Homo sapiens: one gene and its partners. The protein of the gene in region 3 interacts with the protein of the main gene of each other region in a biochemical or structural test. Each region holds a gene or a part of one and is shown on either strand. Other genes may lie near its edges.

Region 1 (8,495 bases), on a different chromosome or scaffold from region 3:
ATACATCTAACCTCACACCAGTCTCTACTCCAGTATTAGCACCTCCCTCCCCTGCAACAGTCCACTCTTTCAACTCATCCTCCAAGCCAGGTCTCCCCAAGACATGTTCAATTACCTCCCTCAATCCCAACCCCAGATAACACCTGCAGCCACCTGGCCCCCTCCCTTACCTGGCCCCCATTCTCAGTTCGGAAGACGTACTTGACGTTGGGGTCAGGGAAGGTGGCAGCTGACTGGATGCTGGCAATAGCCACACTGGTTGGGTCTTCCCCAGTAGCCACTGCACCTGAATTAAAAGAACAAAGGAAAAGTCTGTGAGTTAACTGCCTTTCTACCCCCGTTCCATTTGCATGTCACGGAAGGAGGAGGATGCACAGGAGATGGTCTGGTGGGGAAGGAAGGGAGGCCATGATGGGTTCTTAGTCTTGGTTCTGTTTCTAGCACTCACCTTCCTGAATCTGCACTGTCCCCTCTTCCGTTTCAGCTGTTTTCTGCTGCCTGTTTGTGGTGAAAGGACAAAAGGAAGAGTATGAGAAGAAGTCAATGAGAAGCTCACTGGCCCAGTAACATATGGCTGCAAACTCATTGGCATTCCCAACAGAAGCTGGGTTAGGTTAGAATAACAACTAGTGTTTACTGTTTACTATGTACATAAGCACTAAGCTAAGTACATTACATGTAATCTTATTTAGTACTAAAAACAGCACCACGAGATAGATAGCACTACTTCCATTTTATAGATAGAGAAACCAAATCACACAGTAAGTGATAGAGTAGAACCTGAATCCAGGTCTGCCTGACTCCAGAGGCAGTGCTCTTGGTCATTTTGCATTCTTCCAGGCCACCCATCTTTCATCCCAGACCCTACCTCTTCTTCACTCACCCCTTCATCTCTCTGTGAGGGGGCACATCCGAGGAACTGGTCCTTTTTTGGAGGTCTTTGTATCTCCTGATTCACAGGCCTGAGTGCTAAGTCCTGGTAGAAATCATGAAGTTTGCAATGAGTTTAGGAAACAGAACAGTATCTCTGGTTCTAGAACTTAGGTTCCATGAACACATAGCCAGGAAAATAACCCAGTCATCTGCAGGGGACAATCAGCCTCCACCATACTGATGTTGAGGACTGGCCTACAGTGATTGAAAAAGCAAGGCTACAAATAGTGTTCCCCATCCCTCCATTATCACTCCAACTCCTGGTGGAGAGTGGATAATTATACTGGAAGACAGAAACAACACTTTTTTTTTTTTTTTTTTTTTGAGACAGAGTCTCTCTCTGTCACCCAGGCTGGAGTGCAGTGGCGCGATCTCAGCTCACTGCAACCTCTGCCTCCCAGGTTCAAGTGATTCTCCTGCCTCAGCCTCCGGAGTAGCTGGGATTACAGGTGCACACCACCACGCCTGGCTAATTTTTGTATTTTTAGTAGAGACGGGGTTTCACCATGTTGGCCCGGCTGGTCTCGAACTCCTGAGAGCATGATCTGTCCACCTCGGCAGCCTCCCAAAGTGCTGGGATTACAGGTGTGAGCCACTGCACCTGGCCGAAACAACACATTTCTTTCTTTTTTTTTTTTTTTTTTCTGAGACAGAATCTTGCTCTGTCACCCAGGCTGGAGTGCAGTGGCACAATCTCGGCTTACAACCTCCATCTCCTGGGTTCAAGTGATTCTCCTGCCTCAGCCTCCTGAATAGCTGGGATTATAGGTGCCCACCACCACGCCCAGCTAATTTTTGTATTTTCAGTAGAGATGGGGTTTTACCATATTGGCCAGGCTGGTCTGGAACTCCTGACCTCAGGTGATCCGCCTGCCTCGGCCTCCCAAAGTGCTTGGATTACAGGCATGAGCCACCGCACCCAGCCAACAACACATCTCTAAATGGATCATTAAAGCTATTATGACCTGCCATGATGGCAGCTTCATGGGAATCAGGAAGGGCCATGTATTGGCCCCACCATCAAAAAATACAGTGTCATGGACACTGATGCTTCTTCCAGTTTCTCAGCCACATGTTGTCCATCAAGACATTTCTGTTTTCAAACCTAGGAAGAGGAAATCTGAAGCCCACTACCACTGGAAGAATATCCCTGACCACAAAGACTAGACTTGGCATTTGGGCCCCATTCTACTGACAGGACTCTTGTTTTGGGGTATCCAGATTTATATAATCTGTTAGAAACCCTAAAGCCCAAGTGGATCCTCTTCAAGCATTCTCTATTTTATTCATCAAGCCTTCCTGCAGAACAACACTGTTGCTAAAATGTTGCTATGACAACTCCAAATCAACTAAGCCTGAGCAAGAAGGGGTAAAAAAAAAAAAAACAGGGTTCTGAAGAAGAGACAAAGGGGGAAGAATCCACCTACAAGCTCTGCCTTAGGACCCTGACACCCAGCCAGAGGGCAGGAAAAACAAAGAGCTGGGCAGACATGCCTCCAGAAAGAAACAGCTACACAGTACAAAGCAATAAGATAATCCCAACACAAAAGGGGCAAGATTTTTGGAAATTCTCTACCCATAAGGTCCTCCAAACCTTTCCTATCCAAGGAAAATTTTCAATGGATAAGCCTCGGAAAGACCGCGTCCGAGGAAAATGTTGAAAAAGGAACTGAAAGTGAAACCGTACAGACGAAGTAACGCTGCAAGGAGATCCCAGTCGATAAGGGGAAGTAGCACTAGTGTTTTGGGACCACCTACATTTCCATCTTCAAACCTGAAGAGGAAATGCCCTGCGAAGCTTGCCGCGCTGACTGCAGGGGAAGGCAATGAAATAGAGGGCCCGGCACAGGAGGCATCTCTATTGGCCACAGCTGTCAGCCGGGGCAGTCTCTGAGGACACCCAGCAACGGGGTCAGGGTACTTATTCAAATCTTAGTTGGACATCCGGAAGCATTTCCTAGGCATTAGGGATCGGTGACACGGAAACAGGGATGGGACGTTGTGGTGTGCACGCTCAGGCCAGAAGGGCCCAGTAAGAGCCCTTGCTAAGTCTGGACACAAAGGGAAAAAAAATCAACTCCCGAAAGAAGTCAGGCACCTAGACCTTGCCTTAGAATGAGGCGTCTCCCTGCAGGCTCACCAACCAGAAGGCGCTTACGGAGCTGAGCGCCCGCCAGGCGCGAGCCCGGGAGCCTGCGCCGTGACCCCGCAGCCCCGCAGTCTTAGCCCCGCGCCCCAGCTGCTCCGCGGAGGAGGCAGGAAAGGGCCTCGGGGACTAGGGAGCTCAAGCGCCCGGTGCCGGCGGCTGCGGCGCGCAGCTGGACAGCGCAGGAGGGCTGGGACGCTCGCGCTCTGGGGAAGGGAGAGAGTTTGGCCCACAAAGCAGGGTATGAGATAAAGAACCAGCACAGCCCCCTCCCCCAAAACAAAGGCTTCCTCCCCAGCAGTGTTCTCTAACTTGAAAAACGGAAACAAAATCAAAGCTGCCCTGCCTTGCCAGTCCACCCAGTTTCCAGACTTCTGCCCGGTCCTACACTCACCGGCCAAGGCCGTCTCAGCTGCCGATTTTCTCCAACTGTGTTCTCCCTCTCCCGGCCTAGGTATCTCCATAGACAGCTGCTCATGCGCACTTCCAGCCCGCGGCCATGTTGGTGAGGGGCGGAAGTGTCGCTCTCGCCCCGCCCATAAACTCAAACTCAGAACTGCCCCACTTCCGCTCACTCCATCTTGATGAGAGTTGGTGTTTGTGGGTTATTTGTGAAGCCGGAAAGAAGCCGTGTCCTGGAGAATGTAGCTGAAGGCCTGGCCACTTTCGACAAGAACGGGAAAGAGACGACTAACTTGTACTAATATCTTAGTGCTTGGCAGGGCATTTTTTCATTCCAGGAAAGAAGAGAATCCAGCTGAGATCAAGGGAGGGACGTCCGACGGAGGCGCCATCTTTAACAAGGGCTATTTGGGAGGCCATCTTGGCGCAGGGCGTCTTTTTGAAAGGTTACCTGCTAGAGATTACGACCTATCGGGGCATGCATAGAATTGGATATGTTCCTTGTTATTCGCGTCAGCAGTCACTCATCCAAAGACCCCAAAGCTTCTAGTGTTCTAAAGGCTCACACCTTCTGTGACAGGAATCTTGATTCCCATTCTTCTCAATCAAGACCTACCCTGAATGGATTTGGAGTAGTGTGGTATAATGGGAAAAATTCAAGCTTGGGGGCCAGGCAGATCCAGGTTTCAAACCCATCTCTGCCACTTCTTACCTCTGAGACCTTTGGCAAACATTTTGACTTAATTGAGCCTTAGTTTCCTCATCTATAAACTGGAGATACTAGCACCAACCTTCCAGAATTGTGTGGATTAAATAAAATCAAGGACATAGATTTTGTGAGCACAGGATACTTAGTCCAGTTCCTGGCACATAATGAACGCATTATGTAAATATAAGTTTCTCTTCCTTATTTCCTGACCACCATGAACCTAGCTCTAGTTTCTGGCCACTAGTCTCCATGACAACAACTGAGGAAGAGCACCCAAACAAGAAGAAGAAAAAGAATGTTTTGCCAAATATGTGAAGATATAATACCTATCACCAAAGACTTTAATAAGAATAATGAGACTCCACACTATGTGTAAAAATACAGCTTTTATTCTGAGACATTGACCTTCACTAGAGTGGGACCTGTGGCCCCAGCCTGGCTGGAGAAGCAGTCCCAGGGCCTGAGTGACACCATTTCCCTTTCCTGAAATAGGAACAAGTTATTCCAAAGGAGAAAGGAGAGCCCAGAGAGATCTGTACAGGACCTCTCTTGCACATGGTGACTGGAGGCAGAGGGTGGGGAGCTGGAGAGGAGTCCAGTCCCTCCAACAAATATTGAGGGCTTCAAAGAGCTCTTCCTGGACGTTTCTCTTAATCTGGATTTAAAAGGGACAGGAGGTATCTTAGGGTCCAAGAACATAACAGGAATGGGCAACTCTAGAAGTGTTTGTGTGTGGAAGGCCCTAACCTGGCCCTGTCCTCCCTGTCTCTACCTTTGGCTTTCATGAAGAGAGATTCACAGCTCAGAGGAAGGGAGGAATTTCTCCAGTCTTCACTTTAACAAACTCTTTTAAGTTTTCTGCCTACCTTATGTTCCCTTTGGCCAATGACCCACTCCCTGGGAACAAGATCTTGTTGACTTTCTTGGGAATCTCCTAAGAGATAAGTGCTTTGTGTCGGAGACAAGTTCAGGTAAACCAACCAAGGCAGTGCCTCCCACAGTCAAAGAGAGAAGCTGGAGGGCCAAAGCCTATAGAGTTGGGCACTACAGCTGCTCATGCTGCAGAGGAGACAGCTAGTCAGGAACCCTGGAGATTCAAGACAACTTGCTGGTCCCCTTTGCCCAGGGCTGTGGTCCTAATCACAGTCCTTCACCTTTCCCAGGGTTAGCCTGTGTTTCAAATGCATATGACCTGCGCTGAGAGGACAACAGGGGGTCAGGAACCTGGGGTTCTCTGGGGGGCAGACTAAGACGACTCCGGGATCCAGACCCTTCTGCACCTTCAGATGGGAGCTCCAGGCAGCTAAGGGGCCGAGGAGAATGGGCAGAGATCATGCTACAAGGGGAGGTTCTGGGGATGAGGCAGTAATCCCCACCCTCAGTACAGGTCTGGGTTCGCCGAACTCCTTGAGCCTCAGTCCTTTGGCGGTCCCGGGCTAGGGCCACAGCAGCATCAAAGGAAAGACTACCCCCATTCCTCCAAGAGGATCGAGAAGCTCGGGACCCCCAAGCCCTTTCTCCAGGAGTCCCATCAAGCCGGCCAGGCCTCGGGCATGGATTTGCAGGTGCCACATGAATCTTGCTACACATTGCACTGGGCATCTTGGCAAACTGTGGCTTGGGGGGCACCACAGGCACAGAGCGGACCTGTTGGACCTGAACCAGAGTGGAAGCTAGACGCATGCCCACGCCACCCAGGCCAAGAGAACAGGGGCATAGACAGCCGTCTGGACTGGGCTGCCCCTCAGGCTCCATCTCCTCTGGCTGAGGTGGCTGTGGGGCTACCTCTTCCATCTCAGAAGAGTGAGGATTGCCCTCTTTGGCACAGTCAACCTCCAGGGACGCTACACCTGAACCTTCAGAGAGGGTGTCCTCTTCTAAATAGTACCCTCCAGCCCTCTGGTCTCCCTCAGCCTCTCCATCCCCACTCTCCCGTTCCTTGCTGACCTCCCCTGCTCCTCCTTCAGTTGCTGCTTCTGGGCTTCTGCTGTCTTCACCATCTCCTTGGTCTTTTCTTGCTTCATGGTACCCCTTCTCCCTCTGTCCTTTGTCCTCATCCTCTCTGACTCCCTCAGCCTCTTGTTTCTGTACAACTTCCCATTTCTCCTCAGCAACTTGATCTTCCTGGGCCCCTTGCTCTAGGTCCCTTCCAGCTTCTACCTGGGCTTCCTCTCTTTGTTCATCCTCTTCTCTCTCAATTTCTTTTTCCTTCTCATCTGTATACTCATCTCCTCCTGGTTCCTCCACACCTTTAGCCTCCATACTGTCAGCCTTCTTCTGACCTTTGGACTTCTCTTCCTTGGCCTCTGTCTCTTCCCTACTCCCTTCTCTCAATCTGACTTTTGTCTCTTGGCTTCCCCCAGCCTCCCCTCTATCCTCACTGGCCTTTCCAGCCTCCACCTTGGTCTCTGGACTTCCCTCTGCCTCTTCCCTGATGTCTAGCCTGCCTCCAGGCTCAGCCTGCTTGTCCTCCCCAACTTCCCAGCATGCCTGCTCTTCCCCACCCTGTCCCAGAGCCTGCCTTCCACATCCTGCTGCCTCTCCCTCCAGACTCCCTGAACCCTTCCAGATTGGGGGTTTAGGTCCCAGAAGGGGACTTAGGTCATCATAGGCACTCAGGAAAACTTCCTCCCCATTTTCCTCCTCAACTTCAGGCCTGGGGCCAGCGGAGTCCAGGGAACAGCAGCTGGGGGCCAAGACAAACTGTGCCTCATCCAGAGACAGGTCATCCAGGGGTGGCTCCACAGAGAACTCCTCCACCTGTAGGCACAGCATTGTGACTCAGGACCAGGAGGCCCTGTCCACCCTTGACTCCATGCCACCCCCAAACCCAGCACGGCTCTCCTTACCTGAGGCCCAACTCCCAGGAGCTCCTCCAGGTAGCCCATCCCAGGGTCGTCCTCCCCAGGGGAGAAGGCTGCTCCTGCTGCTTCTGCCTGGGCCACCTCCCCATCCTCTGCCCCCACCCACTCAGGTTCTGAGCTGCTTGAGTCCTCTAGGAAGGAGAAGGAGTCCTGCACCTCCTGGGACAGCGAGTCCTCCAGGGCAGGAGCCAAGTCGTCTGGGCCTGAGTCTGCCAGGGGACTTGAGGCTGGACTTGCTTCCAACTTTTCATCTGTTGGGGGAGAAGTAGTCCCAGGAATACAAAGGTCAAGCCCTGACCCTTTTCAGTGTGAGTCCTCCTAGCATTGATATAGCAGGGGCCCAGCACTCCCAGCATTGCTACTCTGCATGACTGATCCTTTCAGACCAATGTCCCTAGTTATTGGCTTGCTACCTTAATTGAGACCCTACCAGGTGCCAAGCACTGTGCTATGTATTTTACAATGCATTGGCATTTTTTCCTCCAAACTATTATGTGGGGTATTGTCCTCATTTTACATATGAGGAAACTGAGGCTCAGAGAGATTAAGCAATTTGTCTAAGGTCATGTAATGAATAAGCAGTACAGCCAAAATTTGAACCCAAGTCTACTTAACTCTATAGCCCATGTTCTTACCCACTATCCTATCCTGCCTCAGGACTTCTCATGAGTGACACTTCAGGAACTGGAGTCAGAGCAAGGATCAGATCCTAGCTCTGCTACTTCTACCTAAATCAATTGCAAATTGATTAACCTAAGTCTCAGTTTCCACTGCTGTAACATAAGGCTAACAATACCTATGTCATAAGATTATGAGAAAATGAAACAAACCAATCCTGCAATCACAGCACTTGGACCTTTTTTTTTTTTTTTTTTTTTGAGACGGAGTCTTGCTATGTCTCCCAGGCTGGAGTGCAGTGGCGCAATCTCAGCTCACTGCAACCTCCACCTCCTGGGTTGAACCAATTCTCCTGCCTCAGCCTTCTGAGTCTCTGGGATTACAGGCATGCCTCACCACGCACGCCTGGCTAATTTTTTTTTAATTTTTTTTAGTAGAGACGGGGTTTCACCATGTTGACCAGGCTGGTCTCGAACTCCTGACCTCCAGTGATCCACCCTCCTCAGCTTCCCAAAGTGTTGGGATTACAGGTGTGAGCCACCGTGCCTGGCCTAGCACTTGGTACTTAATAAACTGTTTTTTGTTTTTTTTTTTTTAATTTGAGACAGAGTTTTGCTCTTGTCGCCCAGGCTAGAGTGCAGTGGCGTGATCTCGGCTCGCTGCAGCCTCTGCCTCCTGGGTTCAAGCGATTCTCCTGCCTCAGCCTCCCAAGGAGCTGGGACCGCAGGCATCTGCCACCACACCTGGCCAGTTTTTTGCATTTTTAGTAGAGATGGGGTTTCGCCATGTTGGGCAGGCTGGTCTTGAACTCCTGACCTCAGGT
Region 2 (8,218 bases), on a different chromosome or scaffold from region 3:
AAACTTACACTAGTTAGCCAGGGCATATTTACTTTACTCCTTGGAGAGAGACCACTCTCAGTGTTCACTATAAATAAGCTTTATATTTCCTAGATGTAAATACGAAGATATGGAGATGAGAATAATCATTCTGGTTATGATGCCAACATTCATTATCAGGGAATAACACTATTCCATGATAATAGCTAAATACAACTTGACAGACTATGCCTAACTTGGTAATTATGCCTCTTACCCTTTTTTCCCCAATACACAGTGTATTTTACTTTGAGAAGACCTGGCCTTCTAGCTTTTGACATCTTTGGAAAAAAATGGCAGCTTTTTTGTGGGTGCAATAACTTCTCAGTAATAACTCATCTAATCGTGGGGGTGTAGATTTTAGATGACTGCTTTGGAGACAAGACAAAGTCCCATTTCTCATGTATTTTAAAATTAAAAACTGCTAATTTGGGGGTATTAGCAATACCCAGATTCATTTTAAAATAAGTGCTGAATCATCTGTATATTTGGGGACAGCTGTGGTCGCAAAGAACCAAAATACTTTTGTTTGTTTGCTTTTTATGGCACCTATTACAGCTGTTGCCAATAATATTACTCCTCTGACCTCTTCCATTGACATGTCTTAATCTGCCATAGCAATTCTGAATATGTGTAGGGCAGGTAAGGACAACATTTAGGAAAATAGTGTTATTGATCTTATTTTAAAATAAGGATTGAGGTACATGAGAAAAGCATCAAACCAATTCATAACGTCAGTAATTTTAAGAATCTTTATATTAAATACTATTAATGAGAGATTAATAGAATTTTAGAATTTTAATACTTCTTAAAAGTAAAGTCTCTTGGCTAGTGCAGTAAAATGAAACCATGCCGAATTCCCAAAGGGCAAAAAGAACTGACAGCTAAACCTCAGCAATTAGAAACAATATTGTTTTAATGTTGTCTTCTTTGTTTTTTAGTCATTTCAATTGTAAAATCAACTGAAACTTAGGTTCTCGCCATCTATATAAAAACTGAGAGAGGAGGCCTCAGATTGTATGCAGTGCCACGGAAAGCACTGTGTGCATATTATATTTAATGCAATACAGATACTTTAGCTTTAATTTTAAAACAAAACTCAAGAAATCTTTATCTCCACCAAAGAAGAATACAGCATTTGCATGATAATATAGTTGTGGTAGCAGTAGTGGAAAAACAAGATACAGCCACATAGACAGCAGTATGTAAAAGGGAAGAACCTTGTCAAACCCATCTCTTAATCTACTTTTTGTGTCAGTGATAAGGAAGGAAAAAGGTAAAAATACAGTATACTTCACGAAACATCATCCACTCAAAAAAGTGTCTGGAAAAAGTACAGGAGAGAGAATGGAACCATTCGCAAATGTGAAAAACACATATATCAGCGAAACATATGCAGTTCTCAATGCAGTTACATAGGAAATGAGTTTTGAAATGATCTGATTCTCATATTATCTCTGGTGTATTATTCAAGTTGTCAGTTACTGCTTTTTCTACTCCTTTCCCAATTTTGTGGCTAATAGACTAAATACCACCCTAATAACAAAAAGGACAAAGTAGCCCATTTAAGAAACATGAATTAAATTTCTGAGTTTATCTACATCTATGGTTAATTTCAACTTTTGAATGAGTGGTTGTGAATAGCCTAACTCCCTTGGGAGAACTGTAAAAATAATTGTATGTGACCAAGATGAAAGCAGAATGTATTCAGCTTTGGATATCAAACACAACTTGTGAATTTGGAAATGTACATCCTTCTATTGATATTAGCTAGTGTCATTAAGCCATAACAAACAGTAAAGCTAATATTCTCTTCTCAAGAAACAGAATTTGTCTTTGTCTTTAAATAGCCAATGTGAAAGATGTAATAAAATACACATTTTCCCCCTACCAGATCCATGATGGCTACCTTTGAAAGAGGACTGATATAATTGTATATAAACTTGGCTTTGAACTATTTCACAGGTAAACCAATGGAAAACTGCCAGTTACACTTAAAGCAAAGAAAACATGTAAGAATTCTCCCACAGAAATTTACCGTTCCTACGTCAAGCAGTTCCCTAAATAACCACTGATTTATCCAACAACCTATAACAGTTGGGCACTGACTTTATGCATAACATTTGCTAGATGTTGCTTAACTTCTCCTTTCCCAAAGGACCCTCATTCTCGTCCTGATACTTTGGGTGTATCTGGATGTTTTTCACTTGTGAAACCCACTCTTCAGAGAATGCCTTTCAATTTTACCTTCAGTAAGATGCATGATGCCCTTCAGAGTAACTGATGTTTCTGAGTTAGAGAAAAATTCACTTGCTATCAACAGGTTGCAGCGAATTTGCTGGCCTTTCTTTCATTTCCCTAGAAACACAGGATGTGAAGGAACAGAGTAGCAGGAGGGAATCACAGATGAGAAGGAAAACTGTCGCCAGAGAAGATGAAAAAAATTCATGCTCTATACTGTGTTCATCTGTAAAAAGACAAAATGTGGTTAAGTTTATTACACTGATCTTGTGAAATGCAGACTCATACATTAAACATTGCTTGTCTATTCTAGAATGAAGTAGTAGGAAGATACTTGCAATGGCAAATAAATACCGTGGAATAAGAGGGCCTTCAGCATGTACTATGTATTATCCTGGGCTAATCAAGACCTTTTATATCACCTAAGCTGACGGATTATTACTCTGCTGCCCACTGGCTTAATTTTGTGAATCCATCCAGACTGCATAAAGCTTTTTGCTGTTATGCAAGTCTGGGGACAGAGCAACGTGTCAAATCTGCTCATGTGAAACGGGTGAGGAAATGCTGAGCCATATGCCAGAGGGAGAGAGGAAGGAGAGGGAAATGATACACTTCCCCTAAAGGCCACTCAGTGGGTAAAATCAATGACTGTGTTTCAGGTACAGACTAAAGAAGCAGAATTACTAAGAACCCCTTCACCTTCCCCACCAGTGCCTTCTGCCCAGCTGCCTTGACCAGGACAACTTATAGTAAGTAAACTGTTCATCCAAAGGATACTAGCCTGCCAGTGACTTCCTGTCTGACTTCCACACTGGTCTTTCCCCTTAGACCAGATGCTTTCAATCGAGGATGATTCTGTCCCCTGGCAATGGCTGAAGACATTGCTGATTGTCCCATCTGGCTGTGAGGGTGCATGTGCTTACTGGTATCTATTTGGTAGAAGCCAGAGGTGTTGCTGAACCTCCTACGAAGCACAGGAAAGCTCCCCACCCCACCAATCCCCAACAAATAATTCTGAAGCCCCGAATACCAGTAGCACCAAGACTGAGACACATGGCACTAGACTGGAAAGCCTCTGGAGAACTTTTTTTTAATCCCAAGTGCTCAATAGTGTGTGGTACATAGTGGGCTCTTAGGAAAATTATTTTGGATTGAAAAGCACAGTGAAAGTGTTGCCCCTATGTTTCAGTCTAGCTTATGTTTCTCTTTTCTTTTTCTTTCTTTTTTTTTTTCAAATTGGAGACGGAGTCTTCCTCTGTTGCCCAGACTGGAGTGCAGTGGCACCATCTTGGCTCACTGCAACCTCCACCTTCCAGGTTCAAGCGATCCTCCTGCCTCAGCCCCCCTAGTAGCTGGGATTACAGGCACACACCACCATGGCTGGCTAATTTTTGTATTTTTAGTAGAGATGGGGTTTCACCGTGTTGGCCAGGCTGGTCTCAAACTCCTGATCGCAGGTGATCCACCTGCCCCGGCCTCCCAAAATGTTGAGATTACAGGCGTGAGCCACCGCGCCCGGCCTGGCTGATGTTTCAAATGTGTGCTTAATAGGGTGGACCGTGGGGGTAAAGAGAGGGAGGGAGGGGGAGATAGATAGATAGAGGAAGAGAGGAAGCCCAGATTCAGATCCTGTCACTGCGTGACCAGGGCAAGTGGCTTAACCTCTCTAAATCTCAAAGTCTTCATCTATCAAAAGGGGATTAATAGTACCTAGCAGATAGGCTTGTTAAATTAGATGGCATACGTAAAATGTTTAGTATAGTAGACAGAAAGTAGTAGACAATTAATAGCTAGTCCTATCATTATGAGCTTTGGCTAAAGGCCTCTTGGAGAGTAGACTGGTTCTATTACAGTCCCAGAGGAAAACACTGATTACACAGGAAATCCAGACTAAACAAATGCCCAAGTCATACTGCAGAGAACACTGGTGCTCTGGCTCTCTTGGACAATTTCCTCAGGAGCCTATGGTCCTGTTGCTCCTGAGGCTGCACCAGGCGTTGGCCCCTGGTACCACCCTCTTTCAGAGCTGCAACCTCCAGACTTGGCAGAAGACAGCCAGCTTGGGGAGAGCTGCTTCTGTTTCAGAGTATACACTCTGATTCTAAGAGTAGATGCTGGATGGAAGTCATGGCCAAGGGGCAGGACAGCAAACCATTGTGAAGTCAACCCAATTTAGAGACTGATTCAACCGTTGTCTAACCAGTGCCGTGCCTATATTATGAACTCTTTTTCTTTTCTTTTCTTTTTTTTTTTTTATATTATAGCCTCTTTTAGCTCTTTAAGTCTTCTATGGGTTTAATGGGAGGCTTTAGTGGTGTATAGAGGGTGTGTGTGTGTGTGTGTGTGTGTGTGTGTGTGTGTGAAATGGATTTATTTTATTCTACAAATGAAATGAATAAAATCACCTGAAATGGAACGGAATGGCTACAGCGAGTGTCCAAAGACCACAAAACTGTTTCCTGACATGTGCTTAGCATATTTAAATTGTTCTCACAGTATCATCCTGAGAGCAGAGAGAGCAGTCCAACTGCTCCACAGGACTGCAGAGAGGGAACCAATCCATCTATTTTCTCAATAATGGTGATGACAGAGATGGAATGCTGATTGCCAAATCCCAAACACATACGGGCCTCTCACCCAAAGGCCATGATGCCTTTGTCTTAATAACAGAATAAACCCAATCCTGTACAAACAGCTTCTTCAGGGTGCATGTTTTGAATGGGGCAAAGATTAGCTTTTTGTGGGAGGCTTTCCAGGATACCGGACAAAAGCATGCACTAGAGACTCACTAGGTAGATTCAAATATTCTTTCTACCATTTACTAACTGCTTGATCTTAGTCAAGTTACATAAAAGGGGCTGTGTGGGGAGGAGGGGCTCTGTTCCCACATCTGTCAAAGTAGGAATAACAATAACACCTAACTCAGAAGGTGGCTGTGAGGACTGAATGAGTTACTACCTGTGAAGTACATGGTATACTGTAGGTGCTTAATGTCACCTATTAATGGTGGTGGTGATGATGATGTAATTTGCTCAGGAACAACAAAGGAGGTATAAAAAATCCCCCCATTTTACAGTTCCTGTGATGTAACATATTTTCTGAATAGGGCTTTATATTTATTCCATTTTTGTGCCAGGCCTATAGCAGTGTTGGGAGCGAAACTCTAGCAGGATCCTTCTTACATGCAGAAAAGGTTCATTTTACACTTGCCAATAGGAATGAAACTATTTCGCTGCCACAATAGCTAACTGTTTTTCTAAATGGCCTATTTCGTCAACAACAATCAGGAAAGTGTAGGAAGGTACAATCTCTAATGATTGTAGCCCGTGCTTAAGGTGAGGAAAAAAGTCAAAAAATTACACATGAGAAACCTGAATCCAGGCAGATCTTACTGAGGCCTTATCATCGCATTCCCCAAATGTCTGAAGAGTGACGCCCTCTCATTCTCGCTCACCTTTCCCCTCCCTGCCTTCCTCTCTTTGTTGAGCACCTACTTTTTGCCAGGCACCGGGTATACAGTAAGGAAGAAAGGCCAGTAATAACTCAGGATATTTTTTGGAAGCATTAAATAAATTTTTAAAAATGAGCTGGAATAGCTCCATGTGGAAAAGAGCTTAAAATTAAACAGCATCAGCAAAAATCCAGCCAAGCAAGCACAATCTTTAAGAGGAAGGATTTTAGGCTGAAAGGCAAACAATACTAGTTGATATACTAAAAAAGCACCCTCCAAAAGGAAGATGTTCCCTTTTGTGGACAATCATATTCCCATTTCTATCACGAATCTCATTAACTATTTCACTCCTTGAACCTTTTACTCTTGGCAAGCCCTTCACAGCCCCAGGAGCTACTTGTACAAATTAGCTCTCAAATATAAGGCAGATGAAGTAATCTCATTGCTGCTAAAGTATAATTCTCTCTAATTACTGTAACTACCAAGCGTTAGTCCCTCCCTTTCTAAAAATAACACTCCCTCCCCTAGACACAGTGATGAAATCGCATTCCGAAGAAAAACATTTGCTTATCAAAGAAATCTTAGTTCCTTAATATATGAAATTTCTACATGGACAACTTTAAAGGGGAGAGGAGGAAACCTGAATATTAGAAATGTCACTTGTTTTTTGGAAGGTGCTGAATGCGAGGAATAAAAATCCCACTGATGATGTAGGTGGTTTAAATCCAGCAGCTCCAACTTGTCATGGCTCATCTGAGCACTGCACTCTCCTTGGCTCCGCCAGGGCTCCCTCCCGCAGACAGGCCCGGGATCTGCCATGGTGCGCTCCCTGCCTCTGAGCACACACACTTATTGAGAGCTACACACAGGCCAGCCGTGGTACTCACCATACTGTCGAATTCTACAGAGCCCACTATCCGAGACACCTCGTCAAACTCCTCAGGAGACATGGGGAGCAGGTTGTCTGTGGTCTGAAGTCTAGAAGGGTGACTAAAATGGGGAAAAAGAAAAGAGCAATGTCAACATCTGAGTGATGAAAGCACTAGTGCATACTTACACACTTTATCTTTTGTCTGTAATTGAATTATCACGTTATATTTTTATTTTGGGTAAGTGCATACACTTGTAAAATACATTTGCAAAAGTACAGCTCATGGGAGGCTCATGTCCCCAGCCCAGCCCCTTGGGAAATGTTTCACACTCCAGGGATGTGATAAGCAATAGCCAGACTGGAATCTGTGCCGCTTCTGCCTGGGTAAGCCTAGGTGTGAGCATGTGCGGTGCACTACCCTGAGATGACAATGCCTCGTGGCTTACCCTGGACAGAAAAGCACCAGAGAAATGTCTGGGGAGTCCCTCATCCCTACCTTGAGGTTTGAATGCAGATAAAGCTGCTCCACACAGTGTTTTTACATGAAGGCTACATCCATTCACCCCAAGACAGTGCTGCAGGCCAAATAACTGACAATGACATTTCCAAAATTTTTTCTACCTTTTATAAAATGAAACAACAAAATCAAAGCAAGTGGAGACAGTGTATCTCAATCATTACTTTGGCCTTTTCTAGATTGAAAAGAACTACTTTCCCACTCTGATCAACTTTTGCTCATTTTATTTATACTTTTTCAAAGGGTATCAGTTTTGGGAAAATTTATATACCTTAAATACAAATTTGGTTTTTGGCTTTTTTTTTTTTTTTAAAGTAGTAAAATGCTGATAGGCAGTAACACGGGGATCTCAACAAGTTCAGCTGTGATGGCGATAGCAATTACAATGGAAAAGTAAAATACAAGCATCTTCAACAGGCCCCAGCCAGGAGCAAGGCTGGCTTGAGGTTTGTAAACATGTCACTCTTCTGTGTTCACTTACACTTCAGACACAGAAATCAACTCAGTCTTGATATATCCAGTTCCTTTAGGGCCATCAAGTTCCATTGGCTCTGGTGCTAGAAATAAACACATTGTGTACGCTTTCCATCAACCGAAATTCCATCAGAATACAACATCAACTTTTCGGGGGGATTAAAGTTCTACTGTGTTTCTAGACAGCTTAGCCTCCTAAAACTTTAAGGAGCTATAACCTCCCTGCCTGAGTCACCTAAAATTCTAGTGGGAATGCAGAAACAACGAGAAGAAGGATCTGAATTCAGTCTGGAAATAAGCTAGTGTTCAGCAGGACACTAGCTAGGAGCTTTCTCTTTACACAACTTGAAATCTTACAAGAAGTCTGAGCCCAAAATATGCAAAGTTCTATCCAGTTTATTGGCATTAGCCTGGCTAATGAATATTCACAGCTGTCAAGGTAAGCTGGGGACATCTTCATTCCAAAGTAATTGTCCTAATATTGAGATTTCTGATTCTGAAAAACAGCTTTGTTGGTGTGTTCCAAACAAAACAGGTCTAATTCGAACCTTCTCAAATGCAATTCATTGACAACTGAGAAGCAAGAGACCTGTGTTCTCAGATGAGGCCTCCTCTTAATAATTATCTAATAAAAATAGGATCTAGT
Region 3 (8,139 bases):
CTTTTTTCTTTTCTTTTCTTTTTTGTTTTGAGATGGAGTCTCGCTCTGTCTCCCAGGTTGGAGTGCAGTGGCGCGATATCGGCTCACTACAACCTCCGCCTCCCGGGTTCAAGCAGTTCTCTGCCTCAGCCTCCCGAGTAGCTGGCATTACAGGCGCCTGCCACCACGCCCGGCTAATTTTTTGTATTTTTAGTAGAGACAGGTTTCACCATCTTGAGACGGAGTCTCGCTCTTTTGCCCAGACTGGAGTGCAATGGCGCGATCTCAGCTCACTGCAACCTCTGCCTCCCCGGTTCAAGCGATTCTACTGCCTCAGCCTCCCGAGTAGCTGGGATTACAGGCACATGCCACCATGCTCGGCTAATTTTTTTTGTATTTTTAGTATCGATGGGGTTTCACCATGTTGGCCAGGCTGGTCTCAAACTCCTGACCTCGTGATCCTCCCACTTCGGCCTCCCAAACTGCTGGGATTACAGGCATGAGCCACCGCGCCAATCACATGCTATTTCAAAGCAGTCAACGAAGCTCTAAGCCCAGAGTCTAAGCGAAGATGCATCTGAGTTGGTGGAAGTGCTCACGTGGGGTCCAGATCCATCTCTAGCTTGGCCAAGGCCCATTTGACCTGGCTTTGTTTCCCACCAAACAGAAGAATGGAAAAGTCACATCATATGGACGCTTATCTGAAGACTAAGCTAAACATTAACAAAAAGAGAGGGGGAAATAATTGAAATAACATGGATGGTTCTGCCAGCTGTTGGACTCTGTACTTATGTCCTGACTGACCATGAGCTGAGAGCCGCAAATCTGCTCTTGCTGAAGCCCCAATCCAGTCTGCATCTCTTGGTATATGCATCCTGTGATTCTAGTATTTTTTTTTTTTTTTTTGAGACGGAGTTTCGCTCTTGTTGTCCATGCTGGAGTGCAATGGCATGATCTCGGCTCACAACAACCTTTCCCTCCCAGGTTCAAGCGATTCTCCTGCCTCAGCCTCCTGAGTAGCTGGGATTACAGGCATGCGCCACCACGCCCGGCTAATTTTATATTTTTAGAAGAGATGTGGTTTCTCCATGTTGCTGAGGCTGGTCTCGAACTCCTAACCTCAGGTGATCTGCCTGCCTCGGCCTTCTAAAGTGCTGGGATTACAGGCATGAGCCACTGTGCCCAGCCCGATTCTAGTCTTTAAAGGAGGATTTCCTGGCTGGGTGCAGTGGTTTACGCCTGTAATCTCAGCACCTTGGGGGGCTGAGGCAGGCAGATCACTTGAGGTCAGGAATTTGAGACCAGACAGACCAACATGGTGAAACCCTGTCTCTACTAAAAATCCAAAAATTAGCCGGGCATGGTGGTGCATACCTGTAATCCCAGCTACTCGGGAGGCTGAGGCAGCAGAATCGCTTGAGCCCAGGAGTTGGAGGTTGCAGTGAGCCAAGATCGCACCATGCACTCCAGCCTGGGCACCGGAGTAAGACCCCGTCCCCTCCCAAAAAAATCAATAAATAAAATAAAGGAGGACTTCCTACTACATCATTTTTAGACACAAATCAACTATTATTTTTCTTCTGTTGCCCAATCCCCAAAACAGTAATCTGATCCTACATTTGAAAAAAAACCTGGGCCCAGTGCAGTGCCTCATGCCTGTAATCGCAGCACTTTGGAGGCCACGGCAGGAGGCTTATTTGAGCCCAAGAAGTCAAGACCAGCCTGGGCAACATAGTGAGACCCGTCTCTACAAAAAACGAAATTAGCTGGGTGTGGTGGCACATACATGTTGTCCCAGGCATTTGGGAGGCTAAGGTGGGAGGATGGCTTGAATCTGGAGTTGGAGGCTGCAGTGAGCTGTGATCGAACCACTGCAGTGCAGCCTGGGTGATACAGTAAGACCCTGTCTCAAAAACAGGAAAAAAAAAAAGTAAAACAAAACCCCAGCTTTGCAGAGAGATAGTATCCAAAGTGATTTATAACAATGGCCACAATTAATGTAGTATCTATGCCACTAAGATGAAGGAGAAATTGGTTGACAAGTGTTCCAACAAGCCGCAGTGAGCCAGACCTTAATGAAGACAGAACACGCAAGATCTTTATGACTGTAACACATGAATTTGAGGGTTACAAACCTTAATGGCAAAATGCTCAGAAAAACGCTTTGTCTGCATACACATTGCCTCAACAGAGACAGCTTTCTGACTAGAGGTAATTCAAAACCAGCTCATGTTGACCTAACCGTTTTAGGAATTGCTTCAGTCTCAAAGAAGTTGGAGTTGTTTATGAAGAGGCAGCAAAATTCCACTGTGGGCCCGGTGCGGTGCTCACGCCTGTAATCTCAGCACTTTGGGAGGCTGAGGAAGGCAGATCACTTGAGGTCAGGAGTTCGAGAACAGTCTGGGCAACATGTTTAGTAGAAACCCGTCTCTACTAAAAATACAAAAATTAGCTGGGCGTGGTAGTGCACGCCTATAATCCTAGCTACTCAGGAAGCTGAGGCAGGAGAATCACTTGAACCCGGGAGGTAGACGTTGCCGTGAGCCGAGATCGCGCCACTGCACTCCAGCGTGGGTGACGGAGCGAGGCTCGGTCTCAAAAAAAAAATTCCACTGTGAACCACTAAACAAATTCATAGAAGAAAGGAACTACCTTCCAAACGTTTTCACGATGATAAGAGTCATCTTGGCTAAATAAACTTCTGCCTTGCTAACTCACTTTGTAACATCCCCCCAAATTCTACTCCACGACTCCACTATACCCAGGAAATCCTTTCCCTGACCCCTCCAGGTGGAGAAACCACTCTCTCAACAAAAGATACTCACTGAAGTCCACAGCAGCTGAAATCTGCATCTCGTAGGCTGGCTGCTCTTACTAGAGTGAGTTATAGGCTTCTCAAGAGTTAAATTTGTTCCTAAATATATGCCAGTGGCACGTGGTATTGGGAATAGAGAATTTAATTAAATATTACTAAATGTCAATGAAATACAAGTGCAAAAAGAAAGTTGCTCTTGTGCAAACTTAATGAATGACTTTCGAGACAATCGACAAAGGAGAGTCACAATCTTATTAGGCAAGGACCGAAGGGATCCTAGACATTGTCCGGGAAATCGCAAAAATTCAGGCTTCTGTAATCAGATTGCTTCTCCGGTGAGCTTTACGCTCTCCATGTATTTTTCAAAAAAAATCCAACATGAAAATTCTAGAGGAGGCTTTATTGGGTGCGGTCTGTGCAAGAGAGACGATGGGGAATGCCAATCGGAGAACCCAGATTGAAAGGAAAGGTTTTTGGAACCCACATCAAAAGACTGGCTGCTCGGAAAGTTTTCTCGCTAGCGACAAAGGCTTGGAGGCTGGAAAAAGCGTCGTGGTCGCCACCTACCGAGAAGCGGCGGGTGGGGGGAGGATGGCCGTCGTGGCCCGAATCCCCAGTGGGTGGTACTGGGTGGGGGGGCGGGCGGGAATCAAAAAACCACTCAATCTCGTGCTTTACATAAACATCTAAAAATCGTCGGCCTCGGGGTTGTAAAGTTTTGGAGTTTAACTTAGGTGAACAGTAATGTCTCTCCATTTTCAAAACCCACCGGCTAATTCAAGTTGAGAAGCAAAAAATAGTGGTAGGGGGAGGAGTTTGAGTTAAATCGCATCGCGGTTGACAGAACAAAACAGGAGCTACGAGTCAGGATTTCTGCTCCCACTCCCTTGCAAGTTTCCTTCCAAATCCTGAGGGAGAGATAGAGGCGGAGGGTCTGGGGGAGGAATTAAAACACAAGGTCTCCTCCCCTCTCGCCTGTCCGAACTTGGGGGCAACGGTCTCTTTGGAGGCCAGCTTGGAAAACACTAGAGAGGAGTTCTTTGTGTCCTGGAGGGTGGTGCAAGGCGGAAGGACTCCCCTTTTGCAGAGCAAGGAGGGCGACGGCCCAGCCCGGGGCTCCCCGGCTTTTGCAGCTTCCCTGCCTCGCAATTTGCAAGGAATGTGGGGTGCAAGAGCAAGTGGCGGACTTGGACGGCGGCTGGCGCTCGGTGGGGACGACGCCGGAGCCACCACCCGTCCAGATTTCCGTTTCTGCACCCCGGCTCCCCTCCCCCACCCGGGCGGCCGCGCAGGCCCCAGGTGCAGCCATGTTCTCGCTCCCACCACCCTCGCCTCCATTGACAGCCCTTGCTGGAGAGGGCCGGGCGCCGCGCTTGCCTCGTCCTCGGGTTCGGGGCTAGCCGGCGCGGTGCTTCCTGGGAGTTGTAGTCCACGACCGCCGCCGCCGCGTTGACGGGGAACGCATCCGAAACTACAACTCCCGCTGGGCGGCGCTGCGGATGCGCAGGCGCAACGCGCCTTCGAGGAACAAAAAAAAAAAAAAAAAAAAAAAAAAAGAAAAAAAAGAAAAAAAAAAGGAGGAGGAGGAGGAGGGTGAGAGAGAAGCTGGGAGAGCAGAGAAAAGGGGCCACCGGTCGCCCCCCCGCTTCCCCGCACGCGCTCTCCAGCCGCGGCCGCCCGCCTGCCGCGGTCACCCCGGCCTCTGCCTCTGTCCCCCAGTGATCGGATCAAGGCGCTGAGCGAGGCCCTGCCTGCGGGGCGGCCATGCGGCGGTGACAGGAGCGCGACCGACACGCACGGGCCCCTCGCCCCCTCTCGCCTCCCGTCCGCTCGCCAGCTCCCCTCAGCCGAGGCTGCTCCGCGGCGGCCGCAGCCCGCGCGCGGCCCACACTCGCCTCCCCTCGGCACCCCCGGCCCCGGAGCTGCCTGGAGGCGGCCGCACTCGGGTGAGTCCCTCTCGCCTCATCCCCGCGCCCCCCGCCCCCGCCTCGGGGGCCATTGCGAGCGGGGGCCTTTATTAGAGACTTTGCCCCGCCGGGGCCTGCAGGGACAGGGGCCTGGGAGCCGCGGCCCGCCGCGCGCGGTGTGGGGCCTTGGGGGGCGCCCGTGCCGCCTCCCCCTACCCCCACCCCCACCGCCTCGCCGGGTCTCGAGCCCCGCCGGCCTTGGCAGTGGCCGAAACGAGGCGATGGGGGTGGGGCGGCACGGACGCGGTCGCGGGGGACGACAGTGGCACGCGCGCGCCTCAGTGCGCGTGGGGGAGGGGCGCGCGCGCCGACCGGCGTGCGGTGGGGGGGCGCCTCGCGCGTGCGATCCCGCGCGCGAGCGAGCGAGCGGCCCTGCGGGCTGCGCATGCCCCGCCGCGCTGATTGGCCGGCTAGGCGGTGCGGGGGCGCGCGCGGTGCCAGGCCCGAGCCGTCGTGGGGTCGCGCTCGCCTGGTGTATCTGGGGCTCCTGCGCCGGGGCAGCAGACGCGCGGGATTGGCCAACCGGCGCGGGGGCGGGGCCGCGCGTTGCCTGGTAACTGCGGCGGGCGGGGGAGCGGGAGCGCTGTCCCCCGCCCCGCCCCGCTCCCAGGTGGAGTCCGCAGTGGGCTTTGTCCCGGGCCGGCCCGGCGCGCCTGCCCCGCGGGGCCTGTTCTTTGGGGGAAATAAACACAATGACCGGAAGGAAAACTTCAGCTTTAGGCCATGAAAATTAAGCCGTCTGGGTTCAGCCAGCACCCAGACGACGGGAGTGCAGAGGAAGAAGGAAAATGAAATGGAAAAAGCTGTCTCCTTCCCGCTCCCCGACTTCTCCACTTTTTCTTAATCCAGCTTTTGCTTTTTCGTGTAGCGAATTTTGTCCTCCCTAGGTTATGGATTTGCGCTGATTTGCGGCTGGGGATGTTCACAGGTGGGGTGCTGTTGGAGTAGTGTCCACTCTTGGCGATGCGCAGCTCTTGCTGACTACTGACCTCCTTTTTTTAAAAAAAATTATTTGTGGAGATGCGTTCTCACTTTGTTGCCCAGGCTGGTCTTGAACTCCTAGGCTCAAGCGATCCTCCCACCTTGGCCCCCCATAGTGCTGGGATTACAGGTGTGAGCCATCGCTTTCGGCTTAATTTTCTTTTTTTTTTTTAGAAACAGGGTCTCTCTGTGTTGCCCTGGCTGAAGCGCAGAGTGGCACAATCATAGCACATTGCAGCCTCCAACACCTGGGCTCCAGCGATCCTCCTGCCTCAGCCTCCTCAGTGGCTGGGACTACAGGCGCATGCCATCATGCCCTGCTAATTTTTTTTTTTTTGAGATGGAGTCTCACTCTGTGGCCCAGGCTGAAGTGCACTGGTGTGATCTCGGCTCACTGCAACCTCTGCCTCCCGGGTTCAAGCCGTTCTCCTGCCTCAGCCTCCTGAGTAGCTGGGATTACAGGCGTGCCCACCACGCCCGGCTAATTTTTGTATTTTTAGTAGAGATGGCGTTTCACCATGTTGGCCAGGCTGGTCTCCAACTCTTGAATCAAGCTGAAAGCAATCGGCCCGCCTCGGCCTGCCACCAAAGTGCTGGGATTACAGGCGTGAGCCACCGCCCTGGGTCACGCCTGGCTAATTTAAAATTTTTTTTTAGAGATGGGGTCTTCTTGTGTTGCCTAGGCTGGTCGGGAACTCCTGGACTCTGGTGATCCTCCCGTTTAGGCCTCCCAAAGTGGTGGGAGTACAGGCTTGAGCCACCACGCTGGGCCTCATCTCTTTTAAATTCAACTTTGCCGCAGACAATGGCTTGATCAGCCAACAGTGCAGAGGAGAAGTCTCCAGTCCTTCAGGGAACAAAAGGGGAAGTTAGTTTGCAAATGAGAACGTGCAGGTAGAGTGCCCTGCGGAGGCGGGGTCTTCTCCCCAGGCTGAGGCCTGTGGTGTGGGATGACCGATTTTATTTCCTGCTACAGGATTTTTCTGTGGCTGCTACCTTGGCTTTCGTTTCTCCTCCTCCTTGAGATCTTGGTCTTTTGGCTGGAATGACATTTTTCAGCCTATGGAAATCTTTCTTGCTCATATGCAGCCACTTCCTTAAGGTCTTCTCTTTTTTTTTTTTTTTTGCTGCTGTTGTTGAGAGGGTTTCGTTCTATCCCCCCAGGCTGGAGTGCAGTGGCGCGATCTTCGCTCACTGCAACCTCCACCTCCCGGGTTCAAGCGATTTTCCTGCCTCAGTCTCCCCCGAGTAGCTGGGATTACAGGCGCCTGCCCCCAAGCCCCGCTAATATTTGTATTTTTAATAGAGACGGTGTTTCGCCATGTTTGTCAGGCTGGTCTTGAACTCCTGACTTCAGGTGATCCGCCTGCCTCGGTCTCCGAAAGTGCTGGGATTACAGGCGTGAGCCACCGCTCCCGGCCTGTGGTCTTCTCTTATATTGCATAGTCAGAGTTTGTTCCTTCTTAGTCTCCCAATCAACTTGTGTGCCCTTCCTCGCAGGGCACCTTTATTTTCTCTCTTTTTTTTCCTTTTCCTTTTTCTTTTCTTTTCTTTTTTTTTTTTTTTCGGAAGCGGAGTTTCGCTCTCGTTGCCCAGGCTGGAGTGCAGTGGCGCGATCTCGGCTCACTGCAACCTCCGCCTCCCGGGTTCAAGCGATTCTCCTGCTTCAGACTCCTGAGTAGCTGGGATTACAGGAGCGCTCCACCACGCCCGGCTAAGGGCACTTTTACTTTCCTCTGCATCTGGCCTAGTCACTGGGTGTTGAGCTCGTAGGGGCAGGGACAAGAAGCCTTTTCCTCCTATGTCTTTCTCCCTCCACTTCCCCCTCCAGTTTGGCATCGTCCTCGTGCCTTGCCGGTGGTAGCAATGCTGCTTACATTTGAGTGTCTTCCGTGCCCCCTCCATGGCTCTTGAGCGCTTTGGATGTACAGTATTTTTCTTATTTAATCTTTGTGACAAGTCTGTAATTCTATTCTATAGAGCGGAACAAGTCTAGAGAAGTTGGAGAGTTCTGTACTCTTGCTTGCCTAGCACATGAACCTGGCCAGTGTGACTCAACCCCTAAGCCGAGGTTGTGAAACCACCGCGCCTGGGCGTCCCCGGGAGAGCTGGCATGTGCGGACTCTGCTTGCTGGGCCCTACCTCCCAGGCTGATTCTGCAGGTCTGGGGAGTTGCCCCACAATTTGCATTTCGATTAGCTCCCCAGGTGGTGTTGATGGTGGCTGCTTCCCGGACAGCCCTTTGAGAACCATTCACAATGGTGCAAAATGAAGGGAGAGAAATTTATTGGAGATATTTGCTTTTTCTTACTTTAAAATTAGATCTTGGCCGGGTGCGGTGGCTCACACCTGTAATCCCAGCACTTTGGGAGGCCGAGGGAGGTGGAACACCTGAAG
Region 4 (4,739 bases), on a different chromosome or scaffold from region 3:
TGGTGCTGGTAATCTAAAGAAGGCTAAATAACTGGATGTACTCTCTCCTCCAAAATCTGGAAATAAGGCTCATAGCAGAATAGTGTAGATAATTTTAAAACAATTACTCCAACGAAGATTAACAATGTAGGCAGTGAGCTCAGAGGCCTTTAGAAACTCAGAAAATCACCAGGAAAGGGAGACCCCTTCCAAACTGTAACTCACTCCATTGACTGATCTTGGAGGGGACTAATTGGCTTCTGGAATTTCCATTCCGTGGTGATGTCTGGCCCTATGAGATGGCTTCCTTAGGTCATGGTTCCTGCCTGATGTCACATGCTCCTGGATCCTGATTGATGGATTTTCAGAGCCTGCTATGGAAATGCCCGTGGTAGAACTTATCCCTGAACACTCAGCGTCATGAGAAGTTACTCATGATGGCGTGAATAACAGGAAGAGCAATCAAGTTAAAAGATTTCCCTCTCTCCTCAGCTCCCCACTCTCCTGGACAACAAGCCCCCTAGCCACGCGCATGTCCTGCTTGGGAGAACTGGACTGCAGGCACGGTGGGGACTGGTTTTATCTTCTTCTGCAACAGATCAATTTGCAAAGTCAACAAGACTAGTGTTAAGTTCCTTCCTCTAATCACACTGTCTAACATGGGACTGAAAGCTTAGGGGGATCAACTTGATAAGAAATGAAACACTTTGGCACAGAAAAGTCTCTACAAATCTTTATGAAAATGTTTCCATCTTAGCAGAGTAACTCGGGAAGAAACCCAGATGGACTACTACCAAGACATTTGACCTCAAGATAAGAGAAAAAATAGACCATTTATCTTAGCAAACACGTAAAGTACTATATTTCTTTGCTAGTTTTTGCCAACTTTAACTCCTTTACGGAGGTTGCTTCTGCACCCTCTCAAATGGTACGCTGAAAAATCTTGCATAGTGTCTTTTTTTATGGAAAACCAGGGCTTTTAATCAAATAGGACTGAGAGCCCTGCCCACCTACTTACCATCAGTACCGACAAAGATGTAAATGCATCTTCTCAAATGCTGTCTTGAACTTTTAAATCTAAAAAATATCTGAATAAAAACAATTCAAGATTTGTGTACTGGGATTTAAGGCAGGCACAGAGAAATCTGGGTCAAAATTAATCTTAAGCAGAAAAAGAAAATCCAAAACAGACAACTTTCTCCAGAGTTTTTATTTAAAGTGGGCAAAGAAAATATGTCAAAGAAACTGTCATTTCCCAGAAAAGTCATTTCCCAGAAAAGTCCATGACTTCTACATGGATTCTACCAACTGAAATGTCTGCTTAATAGTGACGATGGTGCTATTAGCAGGTGGGTGAGCCAGTTCCCAAGGTACACGTTCACTATCAAGAGCTAAGCACACCTGCTAACAACTCAGTCTCCTACAAACCTGATGTTTCTCCAGCAAAACAAATTAAAATTAAACCTAATGGTACTTCTGGCTGAGGCTCCAGAGGTCCCCAGGAGGGAGGGTGTTTGCGTGGAGGGGGCCTTGGTTCCACAGAATGGTGGCTTATGGACGCTTTTAAGACACTAAAGAAACCCACATGGTAAAAGGCTGGGTGCGGTGGCTCACGCCTGTGATCCCAGCACTCTGAGAGGCTGAGGCGGGCGGATCACAAGGTCAGGAGTTCGAGACCAGCCTGGCCAACATGGTGAAACCCCGTCTCTACTAAAAATACAAAAATTAGCCAGGCATGGTGGCATGCACCTGTAATCCCAGCTACTCGGGAGGCTCAGGCAGGAGAATCACTTGAACTTGGGAGACAGAGGTGCAGTGAGCCAAGATCGCACCATTGTACTCCAGCCTGGGCAATGGAGTGAGACTCCGTCCCAAAAAAAACCAAAAAAAAGAAAGAAAGAGAGAGGAAGGAAGGAAGGAAGGAAGGAAGGAAAGAAGGAAGGAAGGAAGGAAGGAAGGAAGGAAGGAAGGAAGGAAGGAAGGAAGGAAGGAAGGAAAGAAACAAAACCCACATGGTAGCACTAAGCCTAGGCGAGGACCCATCACCTTTAGGCTTAATGGGGTCTTGGCCTCCACAGCACCAGCAGAGGGCCTAGAGGTGAGACAGAAATGGCCGACCAAACACACCCTTCACCCTGTTTACAACAGCCCAACTTCCCTTGCACGTATCCTCAAGGAGAGCAGCAAAACCATCTCTTCAAGCAATGCTTTCCTTTAGTTTATTGTTCTTCTTAATAACCAAGTAATCTGGAGCCAAGTCATTCCTCAGCCTTCCTCCTCCCTGCATCAAACTCAAGCTTCCTCCCACACCCCTCTCTCCAACTAAGATGCACAGCCTGTTCCCATCCCTCCTCTGTCCCTCTCTTCGTCACTGGCCTGTCCCCACCCACCCTGATGTTCTTTTCTCCCTGCCACCCACTTCCCACCCCTTACTACTCTGAGCCCCAGGCCTTGAGATTTTGCTGCCTGGACTGTAAATCTGGCCGAGGCTGAGAAGAGCAAACAAAGGAGCAACTGTGGGAACTGACAGCTCAAGGACTCTGGCATCAGGGTAGGCCCTTGGCTGACTTTCTCAGGAGGTGCTGTCGGGGCTGGTCTTCCCGCCGGCCACCACATACATCTTAAAATTACAGAGGGTGTGAGTGACCCTAAGATGGTTCAGCAGGCACTGGAGGAAGGAGGCCTTTTCCAAGAAATGAAATGTGACAGAAATGAAAGCCCATGGACCACAGACTTGGCAACATTTGACATAAAATGTTATTGCTAAAATCCCTATAATTACCTCCCAAAATGGAACAGAATTGAAAAAAGAAGTAAGAAAGAGAGAAGAAGCGAGGGAGGGAGGGAGGTAAAGAAGGAAAGGGAGAAGGGAAGGAGGGAAGGAAGGGAGGGAGGAAAAGGAAGGAAGGGGTTGGAAAGGGAGAAGGGAAGGAGGGAAGGAAGGGAGGGAGGAAAAGGAAGGAAGGGGTTGGAAAGGAAGAAGGGAGGGAGGGGAAGAATGGAAGGATGGGGGAGAGGGAGGAAGTGAGGGAGGGAGGGGAAGGAAGAAGGGAAGGAAGGTTTACAGGTCTACAATTCTAGCTGTGCGTAGAAAGTGTAGTCATGAAATGACTACTCCAAACAAGCATGAACCTGGGGCTCAATTCCAGGCTCATTTTAAAATCCCAGTTTCAGGGAACAGGACTCAGGTGGGAGCCACGCCTAAAAGCCTTCCACAGAGAGAGTGTGGTTAAGCGCATAGGCGTCGCTATCCTCTTCCTCCAAAAGCAGCTTGTCGATGGTCAACGAGCTGGCGGCTCTTCTGGGGTCTTCCATGTCCTGAAGGACTGGCTCTGGGATAGAGATGGGGAGCTGGACAAACTGGGGCCCAGGTAGGGCTGGGGCCGGAGGCTGGTACTGCAGGGTGGAGGTGGGTAGTGTGGAAAGGGGCTGAGGCCACGGGAAATAGGTGAGGGGTGCCTGGTGCTCTGGGCCCTCCAGCGGGGGCCCCACTGCGGGCGTGGCGGAGCTTCTTGTCTGTGACAGGAAAACACGTGACAGAGGGTTAGCAGCCCCAGGAGACCCATCCACCCATCCTTGCCCTTAGAGGGGTCTCCATCTCCCCCTTCAATTCTGCCCTTTCCTGGTTTCTCACTTCATGGGGCTCCACCTCCTCCTGCTCAAAGTCTTCCCCAAGGGAGGAGCCAGGCTGACTTCAACCGCAGCCCCAATCCTGACCCTTCCTAGCTATATGTCTTTGCTCAGGCCACTTCCTGCTCAGAAGGCTCATTTTTCTCATCTACGAAATAGAATACAAACAGTAATGAACTCATTGGGTTAGGCCAATTAGAGAGGATTTTCCAGGTTTCGTTGAATACAAAATTCATTTCTATTTCAGAGATCTTAAAACATTAAAAATATATGCATCTTAAAATCTGTGAAAATATATGTTAAACCACAGCCTGGAAGCTGTATCTGGAAGGTGGCCACTGTCCTGCCCAGACACAAAGACAGTCCGGGCTCCACACAACAGCTTTGGAGGTCCCCTTGGGCCAACACAGCTCCATCACCTCCCACCCCTCTAGTGGTGGCCAGCATGGGGAGGCCTGGCCATCCCCAGATGGGGGAAGCACTGCTTTGTCAGCAAACTTGGCCTTCCTTCCTGCTGCTGCCTGGTGCCTTCCACATCCTCATCGTCCTCTGTCTCTGAGCTGATCTCCATGGCCATCCCACTTATGGGCACCCCCCATGACCCTCCAAGTGTTAGAGTCCTTCTCCTGAATGCTCTGCGAGTCATACCTCTCACCTGCACGGCGACTGCCCTCACAAACCTCAGATCAGGCCTGCAACAGGGGCGGGACCTGGATTCTTACTTTTCTTTCACACTTGAGGAAAGCAGATAGAAGAGGATGCTCTCTGCATGGATTCATGAGAGGGAGGCCAAAATCTCCCCCTACCATCCCTGTCTCCCCTGTCATATATCCCTCCTACTGTCACTGTGTCTTGACAGCAAACTGTTAGAATCATTTAGGGCAGGGCTTTTCTCAACCTCCTGGGGATCTTGTTAGAACGCAGCTTCTGGCACAGGAAGTCTAGAGTGGGGCCTGGGATTTTGCATGTCTAATCAGATCTCAGGGGGACTCCAATGTGGCCAGTCCAGGGACAAGAGTTTGAGTAGCAAGGCTTTAGGGTGTTTTTGCACAGAATGATAGAGCTGGAAATGGTCTCAGAGGCCTTCCAGCCTCCTGAAATCCGGGCTGAGGTGTACACCCCACCACAGC

Evidence for each region.
Region 1: the proteins of GTF2I (region 3) and USF1 form a complex in vitro, tested with the Homo sapiens proteins (2 studies listed by BioGRID).
Region 2: the proteins of GTF2I (region 3) and STAT1 form a complex in vitro, tested with the Homo sapiens proteins (one study listed by BioGRID).
Region 4: the proteins of GTF2I (region 3) and POU2AF1 form a complex in vitro, tested with the Homo sapiens proteins (one study listed by BioGRID).

What each region holds. Positions count from the first base shown.
Region 1 is NC_000001.11:161,042,385-161,050,879, forward strand, and holds the start of USF1 (upstream stimulatory factor 1), read right to left. Parts: upstream 3,594-8,495; 5' UTR 3,474-3,593; intron 2,601-3,473; exon of another isoform or gene 2,528-2,600; intron 977-2,527; 5' UTR 892-976; coding exon 884-891; intron 499-883; coding exon 449-498; intron 289-448; exon of another isoform or gene 287-288; coding exon 171-286; intron 1-170. Other genes in the region: ARHGAP30 (rho GTPase-activating protein 30), read right to left, coding at 5,331-6,950, 7,040-7,305.
Region 2 is NC_000002.12:190,968,233-190,976,450, forward strand, and holds the end of STAT1 (signal transducer and activator of transcription 1-alpha/beta), read right to left. Parts: intron 7,680-8,218; coding exon of another isoform or gene 7,656-7,679; coding exon 7,580-7,655; coding exon of another isoform or gene 7,576-7,579; exon of another isoform or gene 7,306-7,575; intron 6,701-7,305; coding exon 6,598-6,700; intron 2,486-6,597; coding exon 2,471-2,485; 3' UTR 917-2,470; downstream 1-916. UniProt on the Homo sapiens protein: Signal transducer and transcription activator that mediates cellular responses to interferons (IFNs), cytokine KITLG/SCF and other cytokines and other growth factors.
Region 3 is NC_000007.14:74,653,329-74,661,467, forward strand, and holds the start of GTF2I (general transcription factor II-I), read left to right. Parts: upstream 1-4,389; 5' UTR 4,390-4,740; intron 4,741-8,139. UniProt on the Homo sapiens protein: Interacts with the basal transcription machinery by coordinating the formation of a multiprotein complex at the C-FOS promoter, and linking specific signal responsive activator complexes.
Region 4 is NC_000011.10:111,351,081-111,355,819, forward strand, and holds the end of POU2AF1 (POU domain class 2-associating factor 1), read right to left. Parts: exon of another isoform or gene 3,496-4,739; coding exon 3,181-3,495; 3' UTR 1,175-3,180; downstream 1-1,174. UniProt on the Homo sapiens protein: Transcriptional coactivator that specifically associates with either POU2F1/OCT1 or POU2F2/OCT2. It boosts the POU2F1/OCT1 mediated promoter activity and to a lesser extent, that of POU2F2/OCT2. It recognizes the POU domains of POU2F1/OCT1 and POU2F2/OCT2.